4 separate regions of the Homo sapiens genome follow, and all the other regions are reported to be linked to region 1. The links are microRNA targets in miRTarBase. Many come from high-throughput screens and were not tested one by one. Region 1 holds a microRNA gene; each other region holds the end of a gene's coding sequence.

The links. Region 1 holds the annotated microRNA hsa-miR-181b-5p (AACAUUCAUUGCUGUCGGUGGGU, at 2,913-2,935, opposite strand). A microRNA usually pairs through its seed, bases 2 to 8, with sites in the 3' UTR of a target mRNA and lowers its output. Matches are read on the target gene's strand: a 7mer-m8 pairs with bases 2 to 8, a 7mer-A1 pairs with bases 2 to 7 and ends in A, and an 8mer does both.
Region 2: miRTarBase lists C17orf100 as a target of hsa-miR-181b-5p. Seed matches in the 3' UTR shown: 7mer-m8 at 1,555-1,561.
Region 3: the mRNA of INCENP is a reported target of hsa-miR-181b-5p. Seed matches in the 3' UTR shown: 7mer-m8 at 1,111-1,117.
Region 4: miRTarBase lists TAF5L as a target of hsa-miR-181b-5p. The part of its 3' UTR that is shown has no 7-base or 8-base seed match.

The regions. Positions count from the first base shown.
Region 1 is chr9:124,691,589-124,696,659 of GRCh38, reverse strand. MIR181B2 (microRNA 181b-2) reads right to left here and starts at 2,950; the gene lies at 2,862-2,950. The region is part of intron 2 of NR6A1 (nuclear receptor subfamily 6 group A member 1); the gene reads left to right. All of the region lies in intron 1 of MIR181A2HG (MIR181A2 host gene), which reads right to left. MIR181A2 (microRNA 181a-2) reads right to left here and starts at 4,218; the gene lies at 4,109-4,218. RefSeq lists an enhancer at 1,093-1,638.
Region 2 is chr17:6,651,693-6,656,763 of GRCh38, forward strand. C17orf100 (chromosome 17 open reading frame 100) reads left to right here and starts at 70. Exons shown (of 1, transcript NM_001105520.2): 1 at 70-1,784. The coding sequence starts at 222. The coding sequence ends at 578. It overlaps MIR4520-1 (microRNA 4520-1), which reads right to left and starts at 3,817; the gene lies at 3,748-3,817. MIR4520-2 (microRNA 4520-2) reads left to right here and starts at 3,757; the gene lies at 3,757-3,810. RefSeq lists silencers at 8-87, 388-437 and an enhancer at 3,415-3,987.
Region 3 is chr11:62,151,147-62,156,217 of GRCh38, forward strand. INCENP (inner centromere protein) reads left to right here. Exons shown (of 19, transcript NM_001040694.2): 19 at 616-2,023. The coding sequence ends at 830. Among named protein-coding and RNA genes, the nearest start is that of INCENP, 30 kb to the left of the region's middle.
Region 4 is chr1:229,589,537-229,594,607 of GRCh38, reverse strand. TAF5L (TATA-box binding protein associated factor 5 like) reads left to right here. Exons shown (of 5, transcript NM_014409.4): 5 at 1-1,474. The coding sequence ends at 311. Among named protein-coding and RNA genes, the nearest start is that of ABCB10, 33 kb to the right of the region's middle. RefSeq lists an enhancer at 1-92.

The DNA.
Region 1 (5,071 bases):
TTCCAGCTACTTTGGAGGCTGAGGTGAGAGGATCAGTTGAACCCAGGAGGCAGAGGTTGCAGTGAGCCGAGATCACACCACTGCACTCCAGCCTGGGTGACAGAGCGAGACTCCATCTCAAAAAAAAAAAAAAAAAAAAGCTAGAGAACATTATGTATAATTTGTGATGTTATTTTCTCTAAGTATAAATACATGCATTTTAAGTATCTTGAAATATCTGTGAGGCTATACACCGAACAGGATGATGGAAGGGGGTCAGCCAGTAGGCTTTTATTTTGAAAAACAAAAGCCAAAGTATGCCTTTTTGAGATAACCTTTCCTTTCATTCCATTCCTGTTGACTCAGTTCTACCCCTGCTAACTTGTGCAAGAAAGTTCTCTTTTTTCTCTTTTCTTCCCCTCACTTCATCTGCTTAGTGACTCTTCCCAGTCTTGCTTTCATTGTCTCCTTGCTGAGTTTAGCATTTAAAACGGCTCTCTGTTGGACTAATTGACTTTGCGCCTTGCTCACAAGTCCTTCTGTAATATGTCCTTTTACCTTTTCAGTGCCATTCCTTATGACTCCCTAATACAGTCTCTGGACTATTCTCTTCCTGTCCCCTATACATGCCATGTAATTTTTCTGTTACAGGTATTTATTTTGAGGCCTATCTGCAGAAAACACCCTTTAACTTACATAATTGTCTCCCTTCTTGTAGTACTTAGTTTTATCCAAGAGAAAACTTGGATTTGGTTTAATGAAATATATAATTGTTTCATTGGCATATTTAAAGACTATGTAATAGTCTGTAAATAAATAGCATGCTTGTTCAAGTGTACATTTTTCAAAGTACGTGTCAGACATTCTTTTCTAATGTTTTCAGAAATTTTGGAAATAATTGGTTAAAAATAAATGCCTAGAATGCACAGCATCTTGAAAAACAAGACTGCGTGGAGTACCTTCTGTGTGTCTACCAGTCTCACAAAAAACTCTTCTATAAAGACCCCCTCGGGCCGGGCGCGGTGACTCATGCCTATAATCCCAGCAATTTGGGCGGCCGAGGCGGGCGGATCACTTGAGGTCAGGAGTCTGAGACCAGCCTGGCCAACATGGCTCTACTAAAAACACATTTCTTCTAAAAACACAAAAATTGACTGGGTGTGGTGGCGGGCCAGCTACTTGAGAGGCTGAGGCACGAGAATCACTTGAACCCAGGAAGCAGAGGTTGCAGTGAGCCGAGATCGCATCACTGTACTCCAGCCTGGGAAACAGAGCAAGACTGTCTCAAAAAAACAAACAAACGAAAGAAAAACACACACAAAAAAACCTTTTGGTAATTTCTTTGGGTAGGTTTTAGTTTTTTAGATAGCGTAAATCCAAATCCATTCATTTCCATAAAACATCAGACACAATTTGATGTATATTTGGCCACCAAACATGGTGCAAAATTTTATGTAGTCTGGAGATACTTAAAAGCAGCACAAATGTGACTCTACCTGTCTGCACTCAGCAGAATAGTGGCGATTTCAGGTGGTGACACAAAAGGTTGGGCAATAGTTGAAAAGTGGATGACATGAAATGTGGTGGTGGGATGGGGGCAGGAAGCCGATGTTAAGCTAGTGAACTTTATTTACTTTGCTTCCAGCTTCCAGTGACCCAAAATCACCTCGTCTAGAGTAGGGCTCAGGAATTTGCCATTTTAAAAGCAACTCTAGATGATTCTGGTGTACAAGAAGTTTGGGAAACACTGGCTTGAACCTGATATTTTCTCTGAACTCTCATAGTTTTCTTTAGATTTTTCTTTTGGCTTTGATTTCTCTTTCTGGTTCTTGTCTCATTACCCCATCACTTCTCCTTCCTAATTTGACAGGAAAGCCTTGTCAAATTAAGGCTTGCTTAATTGTCAAGGCTAATTTGACAAGACTCTTCTCTTACTGTCTTATTTGACTTTTGCTATGAGAATCTGCTTCTTCTTAGACTTAAGTGTATGATAAATTATTCATGACCAAGGGCCTTGTTTTTCTTTCTTTAACATGGGATTTAGTGGCTTATCTCATGTTACAGGATTTAGAGAGTTGATACTACATTTAAATTTTTTGTTAAGAAAAATGTACATCTTCTATCTCACTTAGGTGTTTTTCCTGTTTGAGGGACATGGTTTGCAAAGGTTAGAATGAATGAGCCTCATAGTTTTTGTCAAAAGAGAATATTGATGTACATCTGAATAATAACCAGAACATTCATATTAAGTCATACTATATAGCCATTTAAAAGAATGACGAGTACATAAAAGACTGTTGTGGAAGTCTATGATATATAGCTGAATAACAAAATAGATTATAGAACAATAGGTAAAAATGAGCTTATTTTTGTCTAAGCCACTCTCCCCCCAAAACATGCAAAATTACAGCTATTTATCTGTGTATGTATGGATAAAGGTCTTCAAGGATATAAAATAAATTCTAGTTATGATATTTATTATCTTAATAAGTTTATTATAATTATACATGTTTTCCTCCGAGGAAATGGATTGCAGATGATGATTGAAGGGATTTTCAATTTTTACTTTGTATATTTTTGTATTTGAATTTCTAAATAATAAGCATATGATTCTGTTTAGAAATTCTGAATGTACTGATTTTTAAAATGTGATGTGATATCCAGATATGTATTTAATTCTTCCTATAAAATATCATTTCCTTAAATCTAGACTATTGAAAAAGGAGAAAAGTACTAGGAATTTAGAGAACTTACTCCATGTTAGAACCAAGGAGAACAAGAAAAGCTTTAGCTAGTGTTTTGGAAATAGTAGCAGCTCCCACTCACAGCAGTAGCTGCTGCACTCAGGCGACTCTCTGCACATGCTTTTGCTTCCTTTGGGTTGTTTGGTCCGCAGTTTGCATTCATTGATCAGTGAGTTGATTCAGACTCAAACCCACCGACAGCAATGAATGTTGAGTGCAGCCATCAGTGTTTTCAGTTGGTGGGGTTGCCTTTGCCCTCCCTGGCTGACTCCTGGCTCTTCTTTTCCATCTCAGTTCTTTGAAGTCTGTGTGTCTGGCTTCTCCCTTAGTAACCAGCCATCTGCATGATTGAGGGCCCACACAGGTGTCCATAACATTGACATTGGAGCTGGGAGGTTATTGCAGATGAGGAAGCTGTGGTTCAGAGAAGGAAGGAGTGCTTGGAGAACCTCACAGGTAGCACTGCGCCACACAGGCAGTGCTTGCATATTAGTACCTGTAAACCACAGCTGAGGGACCTGCTTTTCCTCTTTGTTTTGAACTGAGAAGTATGAGTGCTTTTTTGAGGTAAATTAGCAGATTATGTTGGAGTTTAATAATAACAGCTTACATATATTGAGCATTTGCTGTGGGCTAGTAATGGTACAAAGCACCTTATATATTATCTCATTGAGTCTCAAAACTCCATGATAGGTACTCTTAGCCTCTGTTTTATATGTGAGAAAACTGAGACACTTGCTTAGGGGGTCAAATAACTAGTTAAGGGCTTGAGCCAAGATTCATCCCAGATCTGACTGACTCCAGGGCTAAGTTTTTGCTTGAATTTAGCAAACATTTAAATAAGCATATGTGGGGATATGTGGGCACTAGTAAGGCAATAGCTCATGCTCTAACTGGGATATCAAAAATTAACCATATTAACTATAATTCAAAGTGAAATGTGATAAGAACTGTCACAATTGGATAATTTTGTGCTATTTTTGCTTATTAAATCCTCCCCTTGCCCCTAATTAAAAATTTTGAGAGGATGTGGGAGAAATGGGAGTAATTATTTAACTGGATTTTATTCCAAAACAAAATACGTATTTTTAATAAATTTTTACTTGCTACGTCCTGTTTCTCACCAGAATGGTGCATATCTAGGAGACATGTAGGTACATTAGATATCATCATGGACTGCTCCTTACCTTGTTGAAATGAAACACTTTTTTTGTAAAAACAAACAAATAATAATAAAACACACAACAGAAAGCAAGGAACAGTGAGCAGTAGGAATAAAATTCACTGGACCACATTTGGGGGATTGCAGGACCATTTCTGGTGAACTCATGTGACATGTGAAGGTACAGCTTGCTCTTTTGCTTCAGGAAATGTAGTGTCGTCTGTAAGGACCCCAAGGTACAGTCAACGGTCAGTGGTTTTTTCAAATCCCAAACTCACCGACAGCGTTGAATGTTCCTTGGAGTCCTCTGAAGGCTGGCCTGATAGCCCTTCTTCATTCTCCCATCCACATCCCAAGAACCAGTGAGCAGTGAGACCACCGCTGATGGATGCTCTTACATTCCTCTCTGGGTTTCAAGTCGAGAGTATTTAAATTATAAAATCAATTTGTGTGCAGCAGAGAACTAATGAACTGTGGGATAGACTGTGCAGTAATTTGTACAAGCAGACTCAAATGAATGTCTGAGAAAATGTCTTTGAATGGTATTATTTTGTGATTCTAAAAATGTAAAATACCTGATTTTGCAGTAGTATTTTAATTGTTAACAAGGGTAAGAGATTAACATATATTGGGGATCTGCTATATACTAGGATTTGTATATTTTATCTCATTAAATTCTCAACAACCCACATTTTCCTGATGAAAAAACTTGAAGTGATTTGCCTAAAGTTACATTGCCAGGAGCCAAGGTTATAAGCCAGAATTTGAATACTGGACTTCATGTTTCCAGTGCTCACTCATCATACTGCTTCTGTTGTCTACTACAGAACTTACTGTTGATATCTAGGAGTAGACCCATCACTGCAGAGCCAAAGTCAAACATGTAAATTTCTTCTACTTGTTTGCCTATAATAATAGCAGGTAGGTCTATAGGTGAGGTCATAGGGGAAGATGAAAAACCTCGACCTCCATGATTGATGATCTCCTTTGCTGAGATCCTGCATTACTAAGTTACCACAGAGGTGTTAGTGATAGTCCACAAGCTATTTTCCATATTGAAAAAGCAAAAAATAAACCAAAAACCCACCACCTAATGTAAAGCTTGCATTTCTTCTTAGTTGAGAACACAGAGTGTAACTAAAATGTCAGATGTCATTTGTTCTGGCTGAAACGATACCAGTACATT
Region 2 (5,071 bases), not on the chromosome of region 1:
GCGCTGGCTCCAAAATAGCGAGGGGGCGGGGCCCGGGCCGTGGGAGCGCCTGAGGGGCAGGAGTCCAGTGTTTTAGCCTTCGAAGGACCATGGTGCTTCCACGTCATCGTGTTGTGGCGCTCCCGGCTATGGCAGTACCGTAGTTTTCCTCTCTTCTGCCTGCGGTGACCATTGGGCTGTAGGGTGCCCCGAGGCCTCCCTGGCCCCCTCACGCCGGCAGAATGGCCTCAGCCCGAGGGGCCAAGCAGTCTTCGCCCCGGGTGGGGACCACCCGCTACACAGAGACGTCCACGGTCCGCGTGGAGACCTCGTCCCACCGCGTGGAGACGTCGTCCCGGCGGGTGGAGACCTCCCAGCGCCGCAGCGAGGGGCCCTCCCTCTCCCCCTCGGGGAAGCGGCTCCCTCGCATCCTCGAGGCGTCCTCCCGGCACGTGGAATCCTCCTCGCAGCGCACGGAAACGACCTCCCGCCACGTCAGAGCCTCGTCCCTGAGGGTGGAGACGTCTCTGCACTGCGCGGAGAGCCCGACCCCGCGGGCCAAGCCGGCCGCCCGCCAGAACGAAAAAACGGCCCGATGAGATGCTGCTTCCCAAAGGCCACCAAGGGGCCAGGGCCCTCAGCCAGGACAGAAAGGCCTCCAGTTGCCAGCCAGCCAGCCAGCTGCCAGGTGGACCAATCATTTTCGGTTTCATGGAAACAAACCATAAATCAATGTAAGAAACAGCCAAGCCGCAGTTTCTGAACACAGCCAACGTTTACTGACCGTCCTGCGTCTTGGACCAGCCTACTTTTGACCCAGTGAACTATTTTCACTTGAAGCCAGCACAGAAGGTTTTCAGGCCCAGGATGCTGTCTAAATCGGGTTGATGGACAAAGAGAGGCTGTTTGAGCCTCTGAGCCAGGTGAGTTTGGGATCCACAGCCCTCAGAAAACCTTCACCCCTTAGGAACAGAGACCAAACTGAAATAATGACCTGTGGAATGATTCCATGCCTGCTAAAAACTCGAGGGACAAGGAACAGACTCATAAATTATTAATTGGCCTTTGTTTATGTTTCAAAGTAAATGGTCGTTTTCTTTATGCTAAGTCTTTGTACCTGGCACCCCCATCCATACACTTTTTTAAGGTAGGTTAGATGTGGTTAAAAATGACAGTAAACCCACCAGCAAGCAAAAATAATCTTAGAAAGTGAGAGGAGGTCACTGAAACCTGGCCTGAGGTTTGAAGAAGATGGAGAAGAGTTATATTTATTGAGAACCGGCTCTGTGCCAGGCACTAGATGTTCCTCCACTTACGATGGGGTTACCTCCCGTTGAAACTATTGTAAGTTGAAAATATGGTAATTTGAAAATGCACTTAATACCCCTAACCTACTAAACATCATGGCTTAGCCTAGCCTACCTTAAACATGCTCAGAACACCTAAAGTTGAGCAAAATCATCTAACAGAAAGCCTGTTTTATAATAAAATGTTGAATATCTCATGTAATTTATTGCATACTGTACTAAAAGTGAAAAAGAATGGTTGTAAGAGTACTTAAAGTACTATTTCTACTGAATGTCACTTTTGTACCATTGTAAAGTCGAAAAATCATAAGTCAAACCATCTTAAGTTGGGAACTGTCTGTATTCTGGGAACTTGGGCTATAGCAGTAAAAAAGGCAAAGTCCCAGCTCTAGTGGAGCTTACACTCTGGTGAAAAGGCAGACAAGCAATGATGAAACAAGACAATTTTCTATTGTGATTAGCACTATGAAGGAAATACATGGGTAATGTGATAGAGAATGGAAGTAAGTGGCTTCTTTTGATAAAATGGTCAGGGAAGGCCTTGCTGATTAGTTAACATGTAATCTGAGATATGTGTGAATGAACAGTGATCTGGAACAGGTGCATTCTAGGCAGAAGAACAGCAAATACAAAGGGTGGATGGGAACCAGCTTTGAATGTTCAAGGAACAGAAAGAAGGCCAGTGTGGCTGGAGTGAGAGAGAAGCAATTATATAGACATGGAAGCAGAACGGAAGAGAGGAGTTAAAAGCAAGCAGGGGCCAGTCCACAGAAGGTCTTCTAAGCCACAGTAAGGAATTTGAGATTATTCTAAGGTCAACAGGAAAACATTGAAGGGTTTCCAACAGGGGAACGACATGATGCCATTTACATTTAAAAAATATCCTTTTGGCTTCTGTGTGTAGAATGTGGGACAGTGGTTCTCAACTAAGTGTGATTTTGTCCCCCAGAGGATATATGGCAACCTCTAGAGACATTTTAGTTTGGTTGAAAAGTTGTTGGGAGGGGGTGGGTGGCACATTAGGTGCTACTGGCACCTAGCGGGTAGAGTCCGGGGATGCCACCTGACATCCTACAGTGCACAGGTCAACACCCTCCCCTCTGCCAACGATGAAGAATCACTGGTCCCAAAATGTCAATAGTGCCAAGGCTGAGAAACACTGACAGTTCTAGCAGCTTGGAAAGCTAGAGCATGGTCTACTGGGACAGCGCACCACTTTAAGGAACAGTCATGGAAGAGGGTTACCTTTAAAAGTAAAGAGAAATCATCAAAGAAAACAGCAACACAAATGAGACACAATACCTACCACTCATGGGCCACTATGTAGGAATTTTAACAGTGATCTCTAAGGTAGGCTGTAATAACTGTGGCTTCCCCTATTTTAATAATGCATTGTAACAATTGTTAACAGTGATTAAGTTTCGCAAAAGCACGTGCTGAATCAGTTAAGAAAAACTTAGGATGCAAGCTGAACAAGAGACTCCAGAGAGCCTAAAAGATGATGGAACATATGCATATATAAGAATCACAAGTAACACAATGATACACAGGTCTGGCGACGATATTTCAAACGTATGCAAGCTCATGTGAGAAGCAGAAAACCAATCAAGGACACGCTTTAAGACACAAGGAGGACACGCTTTAAGACACAAGTCCTCTCCCTTAGTCTCGCCCACGCTGGGAAGCTGGTGGGGTCGTGTTTGAATAGCAAAGGTGTGCGAACAAACCAAATTAGGAAAACTGCAGAGTACCTTAGCCTTTCTAGACGCTGCAAGAGCCTTCTCTCCTCCCTGTCCAAATACTAATCCTGCCGGGAGTGAGGCCTGGAAGGAGGCCCAGGGGAAGCGGGAGAAGAGGTCTGGGCCAAGGAGAGTTCTATCTGCGAAGACTCCAGGCTCAGAGCGCTACTCACCTGTCTCCAGGGCGACGGCAGCGGCCATAACAGGCAAAGACAGCGAATCGCCACCTGCCTAACAGAGGAAAAGCCCGGAGGGGCGGGAGGAGTTCCGGAAACCACGGCTCCCTCTTGCGGTCCCGGGGCACCGAGGAATATGGGGACGGTGGCTCCGCTCATCCCCGGCCAGGCCCGCTTAGCCCGCGCTGGCTCCGGAATGGCGAGGGGGCGGTGCCGGGCTGTGGGAGCGCCTGAGGGGCAGGAGTCCAGGGAGGCAGACTTTTACCCTCAAAAGGAATGAGTCCCAGAGCCTGGCACAAGGAAGACAAGTGTGCAAAGTTGGTGGAATGAATTCGGTGGCCTAAATGTACCTTCCTCAAATGCCACGGCTGACTGGGTCTCCTCGCCCACTTCACCCTCTCTTGCAATCCAACTTGTGAGGCGTGTGTGTGTGTGTGCATGTCCGCGCTTGCCTTTAGATGGAGGTTGGCTTCCCAGCCATCCAGGCTTGCATACACGTGCATAACTCCTACCCCTACCTCGCCTGCCTGCTGTACCAGGGGTTGATTCCTTCTTCCTGCGTGTTTTCTGTCCAAATCCTTTTCTGATTTGGACAGAAAACACGCAGGTGGCACACAGTAAGCGCTTAATAAATTTTCCGGCTACCTGATCTTCTTGGAATTGAGGGCATGCTCCTGTGCGCCCCTCATTGCACAGAGCTCCCTTGTCTGGAAACTCAGCAGTCACCGGAGCCGCCGTCGGTCCTCTCGCTTTCTCTATTTTAAAAAACGTTTCAACCGCTAGCGCTGTTGGATCTCTACCTTTCAGGCTTTATCACCTGGGGTGGAGTGGGTGGTGAGAGGGAAGGGATGGGGAGTCAAGACAGGAGAACGCTCTCGATTTCCCGACCCACCTCCCGTCATATCTCATGTCATATCTACCGGGTGTTCTACCCGGTCCTGTTACTTTTTTTCTTCCGCGAAAGCCCAAATTCCCATCACTGCTCTAGCTCTCTCCCAGATCGCCAAATCCGGATGTCTGTCTCAGGGAACGTCAAAGCAACATGCCCGGATGAGGTCCTCCCCTCTCCCCACCTCCCAGCCCTCTCCTCCTGCCTCCCCCGGTGTCACCCGCGCCTCCTTCCTCTCTTCACCTCCCTCTAAACAAGAATCCGGCGCAGTCAGTTCTAGACCCTGAGCATCTCCCGCGTCCCTGCCCAATATCCGTCCCGCCCCCGATCGCCCGCGTCCTCTTGAACCTGCGGAGCCCTGCTCCCCGCACTCCACGCCCTTGCTCCGAGCTTCCGAGAAAGCGGGGCAAAGGGAGCCAGAAAGAGAGAAAATGCGCACGGAGCAGGTGGCCCCGCGACTCCATGGTGAGGGGACGGGGCACGGAAGGTGGAAAGGCGCGCTCCCTCCTCCCTTTTTTCCTCCCTATGGTGGGCAGTTGGTGACACACAGTAAACGCTCAATAAATGTTTCCGCTACTCGATCTCCTTGGAATTAAGGGGATGCTCCTGAGCGCCCCTCATTCCACACAGCTCTGGTGCCTGGAAACTGCGGTCGCCGGAGCGGTCGTCGGTCCTCCCGGTTTCTCTATTTTAAAAGCCATTTCAAACCTCCAGCGGCCTCGCCACCTCTGCTGCAGACCTTCCAAGCCCTTCTGAAGCCGGAATGATTTCTCCCTAATTCACTCCCCCTGCTTAACACATTCGAACGGCTCCCGCTTGTTCTCGGGACCAAATCCAAAGCCCCTGGCGCCACCTTCGAGAGCCTCCGGACCTGCTGACCCCCCACACCTGGGCTCTGAGCTCCAGATCCAAGATGCTGCTCGCCCTCCCTTCCCCGCCGCTCTCTTTCTGCGCGCCTTTCCCCTGCCTTCCCTTTCTGTC
Region 3 (5,071 bases), not on the chromosome of region 1:
AGCTGAGGAGTTCTGTTGAGAGTGACATGAGTGAGCTCACGGCTGGCCCTTAGAGCCGCACCTGGTGCTGAGCAAGTGCTGGTGCATGTCTGGCCTCCTGATCCCCTGGGTCTTCCTCAGCCCCGTTGTCAGGACTGTGCCTTCCCACATCCACTGCCCAGAGGCCCCCTCAGCACTGCACCAGGGCCTGTGGGGTCTGTGAGAAGCAGCTGGCCAAGGTGGTCAAGGATGGCATCCTATGCTTAAGCTCTGGAACTGGGCTTGTCTTCAAACACAGGCTCTGCCATTATTAGCTGTATGCCTTTGGGCAAATCTGCTGAATGGGAGAATACAGAACCTGCCTCCCAGGTGGTGGTCGGGACAGGTTCAAGGAGTGCCTGGCTCATGCGAGCTCTCAAGGACTTTGTAAGGTTAAGCTGCCAGAGGAAGGTTGGAAGGATGTGACACAAGGGCGTTCTCTGGGTTTGATGGTGGTACAGGCAGGGGCAGGGCTGAAGAGGGTGACAGAGCTCTCTGTAGGGAGGTTGGAGAGGGTGACAGGGCTCTGTGGTGGGCAAGGGATGGGGAGGTTCATGGAGAGCCCCAAGGCAGTGTCTGGTCTGTGGTCTCCTGCAGGCACCCCGCTCAGCCAGGCTATCATTCACCAGTACTACCACCCACCGAACCTTCTGGAGCTCTTTGGAACCATTCTCCCACTGGACTTGGAGGATATCTTCAAGAAGAGCAAGCCCCGCTATCACAAGCGCACCAGCTCTGCTGTCTGGAACTCACCGCCCCTGCAGGGCGCCAGGGTCCCCAGCAGCCTGGCCTACAGCCTGAAGAAGCACTGAGGCTGGCCTGCGGCCTTCTTGGCAGCCTCGCCTCCTGTCCATGTCTATCTGTCTGTCTGTCGGTCTCTGTCTTGGTCTGTTGCCCTCCTTCTTGGCATGCCATTGTGGAGGGCTTGGCCAGGTGTATATAAACGTCCTCTGTGCTGGGTGTTTCTGCTGCAGGTGGCAGGTGGCCCCAGGCCTGTTTGGAGGATGGGCTGGGTGGGTGGGTGGGGAAGAAATGGGCCCAGCCCCACATGGCCTGCAGACAGTGCTCTGTAAATAGTTGTTTTAATTTAGCTGAATGTTAGCATTTTAGTCTTTGGCATTTTAGCGTTTGGGAGGTAGATTAATAAAGTATATTCCTTCAAGCCTGCTGTTGATACCATGAAGACTGGGCGCCTCAGTCCCAGCCCTGTAGCTGTGTGTCTTGGGCCACCAGTGGCCTGCAGGACGAAGGTACTGTTCCATCACCTGCGGTGTGCCTCAGGATCACCAGGTGCAGGCCCCCACCCTCGGAGATGCTGCTGCAGTGAGTGGTTCCACTGCCTGGATAACCCTTGAGGAACACGTCAGTTACTGTCACGATGGGGCAGGTGGAGCTCCTTCCTATTTTTTGGGGTGCTCCCTGTTTGTAAAGGGGAGTTTGTTCATTGGGAAAGACCTGGGTCTTGACACGGCCCTGCCACTTAGTCCCCTACCCTCTCCATTCCCCAGGCTCCACCCGTGCTGCTCAGGTGCAAATGGACTTGAGAGCATCTATGTGCTGGTGAAGCATGAGGTCTGAGTAGAAAAGGGGTATCCCTTGAGACCACCTTGGGACCAGTGCTTGCAAGCAGCGAGATATTTCCCCAGCAAAACCAGGCAGCTGCTAATTAAATGCTTAGAACCAATGAAAGCTGGCTGTGGTCCTGCCTGTGAGCTGCCTACTGCTGCCTTCTGAATGCATATATCTGCTACTGTAGCCCCGGGTTGTCAAACTATGGCCTGTGGGCCAAATCCAGCCACAGTCGGTTCTTTAAAGTTTTATCGAAACACAAGCAATGGAAATGCCCATTTCCATTGTTGTCTCCAGTTGCTCTGCTCCGAGGGCAGTGTTAAGTTGTGCAGCAGAGGCCCCTCCATGCAAAGCTGAATATGTTTACTATTTGAACTTTTTCAGAAGTTCTGCTTAAGGACAAAATAAAGCCTAAATCCAAGAACACTTTTAAAAATGAGGAAATAGTGAACACAATAGACGGAAGTCTGGAAGTTTCTACCCATGCCAAGAAAAGCATTTTATGTTTTGTTCACATATGTTGTGCAATTCAAATTTTTTTCCCTATATTCTCTGACTAGACACTTGTACTGAGTCAATTGGCGAGTGTGTCTGTCTAAAAGCACAATATCAAAATATCACTTAAAGCATCTTTACATAGTGTGTTTAAGAAAAAGTTGTTATTCAGCAGAAAGGTAATTCCAATTGGTCTGCATATTTATCAGCACTTGGTATTGTCTGTTTCTTATTTTAGCCATTCTGATAGGTGTGTACTGATATCTAATCATGGCTTTAATTTGAATTTCCCTAATGGCTGATGGTGAACATCTTTTCATGTGCATTTCTGTCATCTGTATGTCTTTGGTGAAGAGTCTTCAAATCTTTTGTTCATCTTAAAATTGGATTGTTATATTACCATTGGGTTTAAGAATCTACATATTATGGATACAAATATGTTGTCAGATATGTGTTTTGCAGCATTTTCTCCCAGTCTGTAGCTTGTCTTTAAAAAAAAAATTTTTTTTTTTTTTTTTTTTTTTTTTTAGAGATGGGATCTTGCTACGTTGGCCAGGCTGGTCTCGAACTCCTGGCCTGAAGTGATCCTTCTGCCTTGGCCTCCCAAAATGCTGAGATTGTAGGCATGAGCCGCCATGCCTAGCCCAGCTTGTCTTTTTGTTTACTTACCAGTGTTTTTCAGAGAACAAAAATTTTAATTTGATGAAGTCCAATTAATTAAATTTTTAAAATAGAGTGTGATTTTTTTGTCATGTCTAAGAAACTATTGTCTAGTCCTAGGTCCTAATTCTCCTTTGTTTTCTTCTAAATGTTTTATTATTTTACATGTTAACGTTTAGATTTATGATCTATTTTAAGTTTTTTTTAAGTATGAGGTTTATGTTTTTTGTTTGTGTTTAGGAGCATATGGATGGATGTCTAGTTGTTCCAGCACCATTTGTTGGAAAGACTATCCTTTCTCTGCTGAATTTCTTTTATATCTTTGTCAGGAATTAGCCATATTGGTATGGGTCTATTTCTAGACTTTTTATTTTCTCCCATTGATCTGTACATCTCTCCTTTTGCCAATACCACATAAGTCAAGATGACTATAGCTTTGTAATAAGTATTAAAATCTGGTAATATAATTCTTCCAATTTTATTTTTCTTTTAAAATTATTTTGACTATTGTATCAGTGTTACCTTTCCATTTAAATTTTAGGATTAGCTTAGCTACAAAAGTCCTGCTGGGATTTTGATTAGAATTGCATTAAATCTATAGATAAGTTTGGGGAGAATTAACATATTTATGATCGCCTTTTAATCCGTGAACATGACGTGTCTCTCCATTTATTTGCATGTTTAGTTTCTTTCTTCAGCATTTTATAGTTTTAGCATACAGATCTTGTACATATTTTCTTAGATTTGTAACTATTTTCTTGGAGCTGTTGTAAATGGTATTGTTTTTCTGATTTTTGGTTTCTACTTGTTCATTGCTGGTGTATAGAAATACAGTTGGCTTTTGTGTCGGCTTTGTATCCCGTGATGCAAGTAAAGCAGTACTGAGGGGAATTTATAGGGCTCAATGCCTGTGTTAGAAAAAAAGGTCTCAAATCAGTGACCTCAGCTTCCACTTTAAGAAACTAGGAAAAAAAGACCAAATTAAAAGTGTACACAGAAAAGGGGAAATCATGCAAGTAAAACAGAAATTAGACATTAGGAAGAGAAAATATAGAAAATTAATTAACCAAAAGCTGGTTCTTTGAGAAGCTCAAGAAAATTCTCTTTAGACTGATCAGGAGAAAAGATAGATTACCAATGTCAGAAATTAGGTAGCTTCACTACAGATTCTACAGATATTACAACAATAATAAGAGACTATTACGAATAACTTCTAGGAATACATTTGACAATTTAGATGAACCCATGCAGATTCCTTAAAAGATACAAATTAGTTTACTTAGGAAGAAGTGGAAAACCTACATAGCTCTATGAAAGATGTGTTATCACAAAGAAAACGGTAGACATAGGTAGCTTTAGTGGTAAATGTTGCCACGTATTTAAGGGAATAATACTAATTCTGCACAACCTCTCACAAGAAATATAAGAGGAAAGAATACTCAGTTCTGTCTCTGAGGCCAGCATTGCTTTGATCCCCAAATCAGACATTGCAAGAAAAGAAGACAATTATCCCTCATGAACATCAACACAAGAATTCTTAGAGTTTTATCAAGTCCAACAAGTTAAATAAAAAGGATTACACTTTTTGTTGTTGTTGTTGTTGTTGTTGGAGGCAGGGTCTCACTCTGTTGCCCAGGCTGGAGTGCAGTGGTGGGATCTCGGCTTGCTGCAACCTCTGCCTCCTGGGTTTAAGAAACTCTTGTGCCTTGGCCTCCTGAGTAGCTGGGATTACGGGTATGCACCACCAGCCCAGCTAATTTTTGTATTTTCAGTAGAGATGGGGTTTTGCCATGTTGGCCAGGCTGGTCTCAAACTCCTGGCCTCGAGTGACCCACCTACCTTGTCCTCCCAAAGTGCTGAGATTACAGGTGTGAGCCACTATGCCCGGCCAGGATAATGCATCTTGACCAAACAGAGTTTATCTTAGGAATGCAAGGCAGGTTTAACATTTGGAAGTTAATGTAATTCACTATTAATTATAGAGGAGGAAAATCATATGATTAAATTAATAGATACAGAAATTCAATGATTTGATGATTCCATACTAGTAATTTAAGATAAAAGCTTTAAGATTTAAAGGGAATTTCCTCAGTTTGATAGGGCACTTCTACAAAACTCCAGCAAACACTTCCTAGTGAATGTCTAGATGCATTCCTCCTGCTACCAAGTCAAGTACAAGGATGCCCACTCTCATTCCTTCTGAACATTTTATGGTAGTTCTGGCCAGCACAGTAAGGCAAAAAGAAAAAGGCATTGGGAAAGAAGAATTAAAACCTGCCAGAGACAACTTGTAGAATATCTGATAGTATCTACCTAAAAGCTATTAGGA
Region 4 (5,071 bases), not on the chromosome of region 1:
GCGAGGACCAGCGGTTGAAGCTGTGGGACTTGGCCTCTGGGACCCTTTATAAAGAGTTGAGAGGCCACACAGACAATATCACCAGCCTCACCTTCAGTCCAGACAGCGGCTTGATTGCCTCTGCCTCCATGGACAACTCGGTGCGCGTCTGGGACATCAGGAACACTTACTGCAGTGCACCTGCCGACGGCTCCTCCAGCGAGCTCGTGGGCGTGTACACCGGGCAGATGAGCAACGTCCTGAGCGTGCAGTTCATGGCCTGTAACCTTCTTCTGGTGACTGGAATTACACAAGAAAATCAGGAACATTAATTTTTTAACTTTGTTGGAACGGACTGGGGTAACAGTGGAAAGCCTCCAGTTGCAATCCTTCAATGAGCTGAGATTGAATCATTGACTGTGAAAGAGCCCCCTCCTCCCCTCTCTCCTGGGCCCTCATTCCGGGCAGGTCCCCCTTCACTCAGCCCCCCAGTGTCGAAGGCCAAGGTTGGGGAGGGGAACAGGAGAGAGGCAATGATGAGTGATCAAGAATTAGAGTGCCCTGGAGGTCACTCACAAGTCCTCATGGAGACTCTGCCGTGACCTCGCGCATGCGAGCACCTTCCTGTCTCTCATTTTCACCATCTGACTGGGGCTAGGTTTGGTTAGAGGGCGGCTGTAGAGCACCCTCAGGAGAAGTGGCGCCGCAGGGGTCACGCATGGTCCAGCCCTCAGGTGGGAGGGAAGTCCTTGTTGGCAGAGGGATGTGGGGCGGGAATGAGGAAAGGGGAGGGCATGATCCTGGCAAATAGTCTTTCCTTTTCCGTAATTACAGAGAACCAGGATTTTTTTTAATTATTGTTATTATAATTATAATTATTATTATTATTGACATGAGGAAACCTAGCACTGGCAGAGGGCACCTTCTCTGCTTTTAATCTTTCAGGTTTGACTCCTGGCACTGGTTTTGATACTTGGAATTTTGAGGTTCAGGGAATTCAGAGAATTTGGTAGCACAGTGTATTGGGAGAAAGGGAAATTTCGGGTGACAGATTGATCACCCTGGCTGACATGTTTCTGGAAGTGGGTGGGTGGGTTTGATTGAGAACACTTTGGGCTCCTGCAGTGATGGTGGGAAAGAAAAATTCTTTCCAAAGCTGCACTTCTCTTAATAATTCTCTCCCCTCAAAAGAAAGATTATGATAAAGAATAATTTGGAGTAATAAGTAACAAGATAGAATTAGAAAAATGTTGAATTTCTGAATGACCATTCAGAGGTGTGGCTTTTTCCACGTCTTTTTCTCCTGCAATGAACTGCTCCCACGTCCTGCACTGCAATACCAGTCTAATGAACACTTTGTGAAACAAATCGTAAGTATGTACGCACGCATATCAAACTATGCTCTGAGGATAAAGCAAGTTCTAATTTGTGGAAAAAGGATTAAATATTTCTGTTTTCTGAAAAGAGTTATTTTGTATTTTGTTTTCTATTAAAATGTATTTAGTTTCAAAAAAAAAAGTGTTGGCATCTCATTTCATCTCTGAGGACAGGCGGGTGAGTGTTCTGTCCTGGGATGGTGTGTCTCTCTCACCTCTCATCAGGGCAATAACCCGTCGGTTACCTAGGCCACACTGTCCCCAACGAAGGTGCATTTTTATCTGTTCTTGGGTTCTGTTTAGCTTACTTTGAATCATGATTCCCTTAGTATTCACTTGGATTATTGATGGCATTTAATGCTGTTTGTACATCCAAGATTGATAGTTGCTGACTGGAGACCACATATATTTCACCATCTAGAGTCATTTGATGAGATCCTACTTTGCACTTCCTTCAAAGACCCCACTATAAAATCTCCAAGGGGCATAAGAACTGGACTGTTCAATAAACTCAAACTATGTATTGAACAATTCCAGATAAAGGACTCGTTCAAAGTAAAGTGAACTTCAAAACATAATTTTCTCAGCCGGGTGTAGTGGCTCACTCTTGTAATCCCAGCACTTTGGGAGGCCAAGGCAGGCAGATTACCCAAGGTCAGGAGTTTAAGACCAGCCTGGCCAACATGGCAAAACCTCATCTCTACTAAAAATATAAAAATTAGCCGGGCGTGGTGGCGGGCACCTGTAATCCCAGCTACTCAGAAGTCTGAGGCAAGAAGAATCGCTTGAACCTGGGAGGCGGAGGTTGCAGTGAGCTGAGATCGAATCACTGCACTCCAGCCTAGGAGACAGAGCGAGACTGTCTCAAAAAAAAGAAAAAAATAATAATTTTCTGACAAGGACACCAAGAATCATTAGGAAATTAAGTAGGAAGACTAGAATTCTATGCCAGTTTTTTTTTTTTTTACTTGAACCTACAATGCTGATTAATCAGAAATGTTTCTTATTTATAAAATCCATATATTTGAGACACTGGAAGAAGGGTCCTTTGGTAGTAGCCTGATGGCATCACCTTCCGTGTGTTCTGCACGTAAAGCCTAGAGTTCAAATGTGTTCTGATCTGTAATAAGCAAACTCTTAGGTGAGATGCTGTGGTATATTACCAGAAACAACAAAATCTCTAAGTTGGACAGAATTATTCTCTGAAGTGAAAGTACATCTCTGACAGGATGATTTGGAAAGGTTTTGTGTGTGTTTGTGGGTTAGCGCAGAGAGATTGCACTCTTTTCTCCAAAGGGTAGGCATGCAGGACTTGCACCATTTTGTAGACGACATACTTAATGCGCAGCAACGCTCTGTTACTCGTCCATATCTGACATGGAATAGTCACAGGTCTTGAATATGCTCCATAGATTCAGTATCCTTAGGTTCTAGCAGGAGGGTGTAGCCATGGAGATAGAAAAATATTTTTTAAAAACCTCCAAAAAAGAAATAAGGATATTTAATAAGCATGTAGGTAATAGTTACCATGGGCTAGAAACTGCTCCAAGTGGTTTATGAAAATTAACTTATTTTATCTCAAAAACCCTCTGAGGGGAGTGTATTTTTAACCCCATTTCACAGATGAGGATTCCGAGGCACTGAAGGATTAAGTCACTTGCCAAGGGTCACAGCTGGTTGTCGAGGAAGCCAGATTTTAACCTGGGCATTCTGGCTGCAGAGCTCCTGCTTTTATCCCTACTCTGTTGTCTGCCTTCATTCCTGCAGTACCAGGTAAAGACGGAACTGTGGTTAGGAGTAACTAAATGTTCCCAGCCAAAGTTACGAGACTCTTGCTTCTCTCTGCCCAATAAACTAGCAGCAACAAACAGGATCAGGACCTGGCAGTAAGAATAGACCTAAACAATATATGGCAAAAAGAAACTTCAGGCCATGTGTGGTGGCTCACGCCTGTAATCCCAGCACTTTGGAGGCCGAGGCGGGCGGATCACCTGAGGTCAGGAGTTCGAGACCAGCCTGGCCAACATGGTGAAACCCTGTGTCTACTAATATTAAAAAATTAGCTGGACCCACTTGGTGACGCATGCCTGTAATCCCAGCTACTTGGGAGGCTGAGGCAGGAGAATCACTGGAACCTGGGAGGCGGAGGTTGCAGTGAGCCGAGATCGTGCCACTGCACTCCAGCATGGGCAACAGCGAGATTCCGTCTCAAAAAAAAAAAAAAAGAAAGAAACTTCAGAATATTCTGTTACTCTGAACCACAATGATAAATCTCTAAAATGTGTATAAGGTGCGGAAGTGTTTAACCAGCTGAGGCCACGCATGGTGGCTCACACCTATAATCCCAGCACTTCGGGAAGCCAAGGCAGGATTACTTGAGCCCAGGAGTTCAAGACCAGCCTGGGCAACATAGTGAGACCCTATCTCTACAAAAATTTTTTAAAAAATAGCAGGGCGTGGTGGCTCACTACTGTGCCCCCAGCTACTTGGGAGGCTGAGCTGGGAGGATCACTTAAGCCTGGGAGGTTGAGCCAGCCGTGAGCCATGATGACACCACTGCACTCCAGCTTGAGAGACAGCACAAGACCATGTCTTAAAAAAAAGTTTTTTAATAAAATGTAAAAATAACCAGCTGAAATTTCTTAGAATGACAGACTCAGAAAATCAGACTGTAATGTTAATTTAGCAAGAGACTGGCCAAATGGAAGAAAATTAAAGCAATGAATAAAGATGAAATAGGGAACAATTTAAAGTTTTTGTATTCAAGATTCAGCTTCTAAGGATATGATTACCACCTTTCTGTTTGTTTTATTTACATGTTTAAAATGTCTTGGTGGCATAAGAAAATGTATTGAGCATGGCAGACTTCTGATTTTGCTGTTGCCCAGATGGGTGTTTAAGTGTACGGATTAAAAGATTAGTCTGTGCTTCAACTTGGCTCTCAGTCGCATATTTTAGAAAGGTGTTCATTATATACCCAGCCCAGACCAAAAATTCTTTTTTTTTTTTTTTTGAGACGGAGTCTTGCTGTGTCACCCAGGCTGGAGTCTAGTGGCGTGATCTCAGCTCATGCAACCTCCACCTCCCTGGTTCAAGCCATTCCCCTGCATCAGCCTCCCGAGTAGCTGGGATTACAGGTGCACACCACCATGCCTGGCTAATTTTTTGTATTTTTAATAGAGATGGGATTTCACCATGTTGGCCAGACCAGTCTTGAACTCTTAACCTCAGGCAATCCACCTGCCTCAGCCTCCCAAAGTGCTGGGATTACAGGAATGAGCCACCACACCTGGCCAAAAATTCATATTGACACCTCACATAGCAGCAAAGTTAGTCTGAAACTGCATTGGGCTAAACAGAAAGTCTCTATTATAGAATTTAAGGAACACACTTTTTTTTTTGGAGACGAAGTCTCACTCTGTCACCCAGGCTGGAGTGCAGTGGTATGATCTTGGCTTACTGCAATCTCTGCCTCCCGCGTTCAAGCAATTCTCCTGCCTCAGCCTCCCAAGTAGCTGGGATTACAGGCATGTACAATTATTACACCTAGCTAATTTTTGTATTTTTAGTAGAGACGAGGTTTCACCATGTTGGCCAGGCTGGTCTCAAACTCCTGACCTCAGGTGATCCACTTGCCTCGGCCCCCCAAAGTGCTGGGATTACAGGCATGAGCCACCATGCCCGGCCAGGAACACAAATGTTTCTTGTCAATTTGA